Linked DNA regions of Homo sapiens. The gene in region 1 interacts genetically with each later gene. Each region holds a gene or a part of one and is shown on either strand. Other genes may lie near its edges.

Evidence for each region.
Region 2: changes in RB1 (region 1) and RBBP7 together harm fitness more than expected from each alone (negative genetic interaction), as found in Homo sapiens cells (one large-scale study listed by BioGRID).

The regions. Positions count from the first base shown.
Region 1 is NC_000013.11:48,366,251-48,369,750, reverse strand, and holds part of RB1 (retinoblastoma-associated protein), read right to left. Parts: intron 2,258-3,500; coding exon 2,148-2,257; intron 1,225-2,147; coding exon 1,147-1,224; intron 1-1,146. UniProt on the Homo sapiens protein: Tumor suppressor that is a key regulator of the G1/S transition of the cell cycle. The hypophosphorylated form binds transcription regulators of the E2F family, preventing transcription of E2F-responsive genes.
Region 2 is NC_000023.11:16,853,363-16,856,862, forward strand, and holds part of RBBP7 (histone-binding protein RBBP7), read right to left. Parts: intron 481-3,500; coding exon 320-480; intron 1-319. UniProt on the Homo sapiens protein: Core histone-binding subunit that may target chromatin remodeling factors, histone acetyltransferases and histone deacetylases to their histone substrates in a manner that is regulated by nucleosomal DNA.

The sequences.
Region 1 (3,500 bases):
GAGTAGCAGTTGGTAATCCATGGAAAGAAAAGGAGGAAATTTCAAGAAGAGGGAATATCAAGTACGAGGGTTTTCAAAAAACTTGGAAAGCCCAAGAAACAGAGAAGGCCAAAGTGTGGCTAACACAGAGTGAGAAAGAAAACAAGATGAGGTTGGAGAGGCAACAGAAACCAGACCATATAAGATCTTTTAGGCATTGTTAAGGAATTTGCACTGTATACCAATTGCAATGGGAAGCAGTCAGTGGGTTTAACAGCAAGGTGAATGTAACTGATTTACATTTCTAGGAGAAATTCTGGGGGCTCTATGGAGAATATCTTTGATGGTGAGGAGACAGGAACAATGATGAGACCAGAAGGAGCAAGATCAGGTAGTAGGCTACTGCAAAAAATCCAAGAGAAAGAGAACAATGTCTTGGACAAGAGTTGTGAGAGCAGAAATGGAGAAAAGTAGATGCACTCAGGAAATATTTTGGAGGTAGATTATTCAACAAGCCTTGATAACAGATTTTGATGTGGGAAATGAGTGAGGAAAAAGACATAAAAAATAGTTCTAATCCTTTAAGGTTGCATGCAGATCAAATAGTGATACTTTAATTTTTTCTTTTTTATTTACTGAAATGGAACACATTCCTATTTTAGGTTATGTTCTTTAAGAACAGACAAAACTAGGTCCAATAACCATATCTTCAGCAACCAGTAAAATGCCCAGCACACAAAGATTATATATACACATTTTTTTTTTGAGACGGAGTTTCGCTCTTGTCACCCAGGCTGAAGTGCAATGGCACGATCTCAGCTCTCTGCAACCTCCGCCTCCCGGGTTCAAGCAATTCTCCTGCCTCAGCCTCCCGAGCAGCTGGGATTACAGGCACACACCACCACCCCCAGCTAATTTTTGTATTTCTAGTAGAGACGGGGTTTCACCATGTTGGCCAGGCCGGTCTCAAACTCCTAACCTCAGGTGATCTGCCCGCCTTGGCCTCCCAAAGTGCTGGGATTACAGGTGTGATCCACCACACCTGGCCTTCAATATATATTTCTTACATGTATGTATGAATACATAAAGAAACGTGAACAAATCTGAAACACTATAAAGCCATGAATAACAAAATTATAATATAATTAAAAGTAGGAAAATTCATACCTAACTGGAGTGTGTGGAGGAATTACATTCACCTCTTCATCAAGGTTACTTTTTCGTGGTGTTCTCTGTGTTTCAAAACTAAATAACAATAAGTGAAGTCATTCACATACTGAAAATTTACAATTTGTGCTTTATGCATCAAAAAAGCAGTATAATGCTTCTGTTGTCTCATAAAATCATATAAAATGATAACTCAATAATAGATAGGATAGAAAATAGATGACCCAGCTGCTGCTTAAATAAAATATTTTTCACTACTCTTTTTAATTGTGGGTCTCTTTCCATTATGTTTATGACAAAGAGGTATACCAATCATTAAGTCTTTTTTTAAAAGTGAAAGTCAGATGCTTTCTCCCTGGTGGTATTGATAACCAAGTTGTTCAGTATTAAAAAGCATTAAAACTCAAGTTTTTCAATGCATTATTCCTTCTAAAAACTTTATTTCCACTTAAATAAAATTTAAAACATTTTACTGTGTTTAACTTCTAAATTACGCATATTTTCAGTTTCATATTAAAAGAGTTCATGCTAAAGACACAAAATTAACTTTACTTATGATCAGTCAAAAATTTTAACAATCACTCTCAACCATTCCAATTTTAGGTTTCTACATGATAATAACAGAGACTACACTTTTGTATAAACTTTTTTAAATAAACCAGGCAGGCAATAGTATATGAAAGGATAGAAATAAGGTAGAGACCACTATTTGAAGAAACTAATTACTTTAGCCATTATCTTTTGGTGCACATTTTAAAAAATTATATTCAGTTAACTGCAAAAAGGTAACTGTTATAGGACACACAATTCACATTAAATCTATATTTGTAGATAAGTTATATGCTTAAAATACTGTTAAACTTTTCTTTGTATAAAGACATTTGAAAGTAATTTGTTATAAATGATATCTAAAGGTCACTAAGCTAAAGACTATATAATCTACCTATATCAGTATCAACCTATATCTAAAGCAAATCAATCAAATATACCATGTGCAATACCTGTCTATAGAATCAGTCTGAAGAGTTTTATCATGATCCAAAAATAATCTTGCATCTAGATCTTTATTTTTAAGATAAATTTCTTCGTATCGTTTAGAAAGATTTTCAACCTTGAAAGAAAAAAGTCACTGACAATTATCCTTTACATGTCATTACATCTCTCAGCACACAGAGGCACAGATTTCATTAAAGAATTTTTGTATAATATACATTTAATTTTGTAATATACACTGAGTTCGCATGCAATATAAATAAGGTCTATCTAAAAGTGAGGTACAGAAAATTGCAACATTTGTTCAACTTTGATTTTAGGTCTATTTCGTGCATAGAAAATATTTATTAGAATTTTATGTAGACAAAGATAGCCAATGCTACAAAACAGTACCTAAGATAAAAATAGGTATTATAATAACTGTTTAACTGCCAAGATTTTCCAAACATCCCATATATGCTTTACTTTTAATCTTTTTTTTTTTTTTTTTTTTGAGATGGAGTTTCGCTCTTTCGCCCAGGCTGGAGTGCAGTGGCACAATCTCGGCTCACTGCCACCTCTGCCCCCGGGGTTCAAGCAACTTTCCTGCCTCAGCCTCCCGAGTAGCTGGGATTATAGGTACCTGCTACCATGCCCGGCTAATTTTTGTATTTTTAGTAGAGACGGGGTTTCGCCATGTTGGCCAAGCTGGTCTTGAACTCCTGACCTCAGGTGATCCACCTGCCTCGGCCTCCCAAAGTACTAGAATTACAGGCGTGAGCCACCGCGCCCAGCCTGCTTTTAATCTTTTATGCTTATCAATATAAAATATTTTTTCAAACATTGTTGCAAATCCTCTTGATTACATATTCTACCAATGTTTTCTAAACCCTTTGGTTCACTCCAGTACCCTTCAGTTAAGTATCTTGGGCAAGACAATTAGCTCAATTTATCAGTTCAATTAACACACTTGCACAATTTATTCCCAATCTTAGATACTTTTTCAATTGCTAGAATTTGTAAATCTTTCATCAGTTCTGATCCATAATTTTTTAATTATACTTTAAAAACCAATGCCCAAGAGAAAACTATTGGCATGCCTTCTACTGTGACTTTTAACGCCAAAGTGATTCCAACCTCAGAGAAGTAAAATTGCATTTTAAAAGGAGTGATAGGAAGAAATCCAATTAAATGCAAACTTTTCATTAATCTTCATAAATGTATTAGATAGAACAGTAATCCATGCTTATGTTTAATCATTGTTCCTGTCCTACCTTAGTTGAGGCACTAATTACCAGTCATCTATTGATTGGCTATATTATGTGAAATATTGGAGAAAAAGTAAAATTACTCTTAAGATTTATATTAAAACTATAATCCTT
Region 2 (3,500 bases), on another chromosome or scaffold:
CCATACCTAGTTTTCTTTTTTTCTAAATAATAAGTGATCCTCCCACTTCAGCCTCCTGAGTAGCTAGGACTACAGGTGCACACCACCATACCCAACTAATTTTTTGTTTTTAAATTTTGTGTAGAGTCTCACACTCCTGGTCTCAAGCAATCCTCCTGCCTCAGCTTCCCAAGGTATTGAGATTACAGGAGTAAGCTACCTAAAGCTGTTTTTTAAAGCCATAACTTAAAAAAAAAAAATCAAACTACAGCCTGCAGCAATCACTGATGGTCATTCAGGTCACCCATTTAACAAGATCCCACTGAATTTTCCACCTTACATCATAAGTTTCTGATCATCAGCAACAGATCCAAACAATGACTCGTGCAGCAGGTGCCAGGCCACATCCTCTACAACAGCTGAGTGGCCAGTAAAGATGGCTTTAGCATCCACAATTTTGCCTTCTTTTGGTCCTGCGTTTATATCCCACAGACAAACAGTCTAAGAGAGAAGGAGAGAAAAAAAAAAGAACAAGGGCTATAAGAGACTGATTTTTTTTTTTTTCCCTCGAGACAGTGTCTCAGTCTGTCACCCAGGCTGGTGCGATCTCGGCTCACTGCAGCCTCCGCCTCCAGGGCTCAAGCGATTCTCCTGCCTCAGCCTCCTGAGCTGGGATTACAGGTGCAAGCCACCATGCCTGGCTCATTTTTTTTGTATTTTTAGTAGAGACGGGGGTCTCACCATATTGGCCAGGCTGGTCTTGAACTCCTGGCCTCAAGTGATCCGCCTGCCTTGGCCTCCCAAAGTGCTGGGACTACAGGTGTGAGCCACTGTGCCCGGTCAAGAGATTGAATTTAAATGCTAACATCTTATTTAAAATAATTTCATTACAAACAAAACTATTCAACTATATAAGTTTGAGGTAAACACAAGAGAGAAAATATAAGCAAACAGAAGAGTATGTGGCTGCAGCCTCCATGTGAGGTGCAGAGGAAAAGGACACTCCACTGTAATGAGGGGGAGGGGAGACTGAGTACAGTGGCAGGCAAGGACACTGATGCTGGAATTTCTACCTACATACATTCAGACATTCAAGTACCCCAAATTCACTTAGACAACACAACAAATCACCAAGAGCCCGGCGCTCAGCATCTACTGAACACAAATGCACATCCTAAAAGTTTACACTGGGATGGGAAGACTGGGAATTAAAATTAAACTCTGCCTCTCACATAGCAAAAGCCTCATGGACAAGTCTTTCACTTCATGGCAGAAACCACCACAGACATCAGGAGATGGGACAGGTAAACGACACTGGGCCAGAAACCTCTACTAGTCTACTCTGAGAGGTCAAGGCCTGGCGCCCACAGACAGATCCCCAATGATGTGCTCCTTGAAACGTCAGCAGAGCCCAAGCAGAGGCCATGGGGCCTCTGCTTGGGCCTCAAAGGTCACAGCAGCCCACAAATAAGGAGGCCTCATGATGTGGGCCTTGACATCCTATCACAGAAAGAGTTAAGAGGAAAGTTTTAATGAAAAAATATTGCAAGGTATAGGGCAACGATTCTCATTCAATAGTTAATAAGAAATAATACCATGAAGGTATATTAGCACTAATTATAGTTCCACCGACACTGGTATGGGTTTTTTTTTTTTTTTTAATTCATAGCACGTGATCATGAAAGGGCTTCATCTGTTTTTATTAAATCACCTTTTTTTTTTTTTTGAGACGGAGTCTCACTCTCTTGCCTAGGCTGGAATGCAAGGGCACAATTTTGGCGCACTACAACCTCCGCCTCCCGGGTTCAAGCAATTCTCCTCCCTCAGCCTCCCGAGTAGATGGGATTACAGGTGTATGCCACCAAGCCCAGCTAATTTTTTTGTATTTTTAGTAGAGACGGAGTTTCACCACGTTGGCCAGGCTGGTCTTGTACTCCTGACTTCAGGTGACCCACCCACCTTGGCCTCCCAAAGTGCTGGGATTCCAGGCGTGAGCCACTGTGCCCAGCCACATGAAGGACTTTCTGTAACAAAGCTATTTCCCAGTAATGGCTATTTTCCCAGTAACAAAATTTTTTTTTACACAATACATATGCCCTCAGTCTCTGTTGTTACTTACACATGAAGACACTCAATGTGTGTGAACTGAAGAGAAAGGAACATGTGGTGCTCCTGCCATTCACACTGACTCAGAAGGACCTGGCAAGATTAGCATGATGCTTGGCATGTGGGTAGCCCCTGGTAAATGTCAGCTATTATTATTACTACCAATTCCCAGCCTGGTCTCTTCAAAAGGTACTAGTAATTGGGTTACTGAGTACAATCCACTTATCCACTTTCCCTACTTGGGAAACCGTCTCATACACACTTTGAGGGAAGCATCCTTTCAGAGAGCCTATAATCCCAGCTCTTTGGGAGGCCAAGGAAGGTGGATCACTTGAGCCCGGGAGTTCAAGACCAGTTTGGGCAATACGGCAAAACTCCATCTCTACAAAGAATACAAAAATTTGCTGGGTGTGGTGGTGGGCGCCTGTAGTCCCACCTACTTGACAGGCTGAGGTAGAGAACCACTAGAGCTGGAAAGGTGGAGGGTGCAGTGAGCCGAGACTGAGCCACTGCACTTCAGCCTGGGTGACAGAGCAAGACCTTGTCTCAAAAAAAAAAAAAAAAAAAAAAAAAAAGTGAAAAGACAACAGAATGGGAGAAAATTTTTGAAAATCATAGGGACTTATACCTAGAATACATAAGAAACTCTTATAACTTGACAATAAAAAGACAAAATTAAAATATGGACAAAGAATTTGAATACCTATTTCTCTAAAGGAGATATGCAAATGGCCAGTAAGTACAAGAAAAGATGCTCATCATCATTAGTCATCAGGGAAATGCAAATTAAAACCACAATGAGCTGGGCGTAGTGACTCATGCCTGTAATCCCAGCACTTTGGGAGGCCAAGGCAGGAGGATTGCTTGAGCCCAGGAGCTCAAGACCAGCATGGCCAACATGGTGAAACCCTGTCTCTACTAAAAGTACGAAAATTAGCTGGGTTTCATGGTGCATGGCTGTAATCTCAGCTACTTGGGAGGCTAAGGCAGGAGAATCGCTTGGACCTGAGAGGTGGAGGTTGCAGTGAGCTGAGATCGTGCCACTATACTCCAGCCTGGGTGACAGAGACAGACTCCGTCTCAAAAAACAAACAAAACAACAACAACAACAACAACAACAAAAACCAACTCCCCACCCCCAAGCCAAAAACAAACAAAAAAAAACCCAGGAAATACCACTTTATGCACACTAGGATAGCTATAATAAAAAAGACAAGCATTAGTGAGGATGTAGAGAAACTGGAACATTTGTACATTGCTTGTGGAAATGTAAAATGGAAAGCCACTTTGGAAAACAGTTTGGTAATTCTTCAAAAAATTAAACAGAGATACCATATGATCCAATAATTCCACTCCTAGGTATATATCCAAGAGAAATAAAAACATACATCTACACAAAAACTTGTAAACAAATG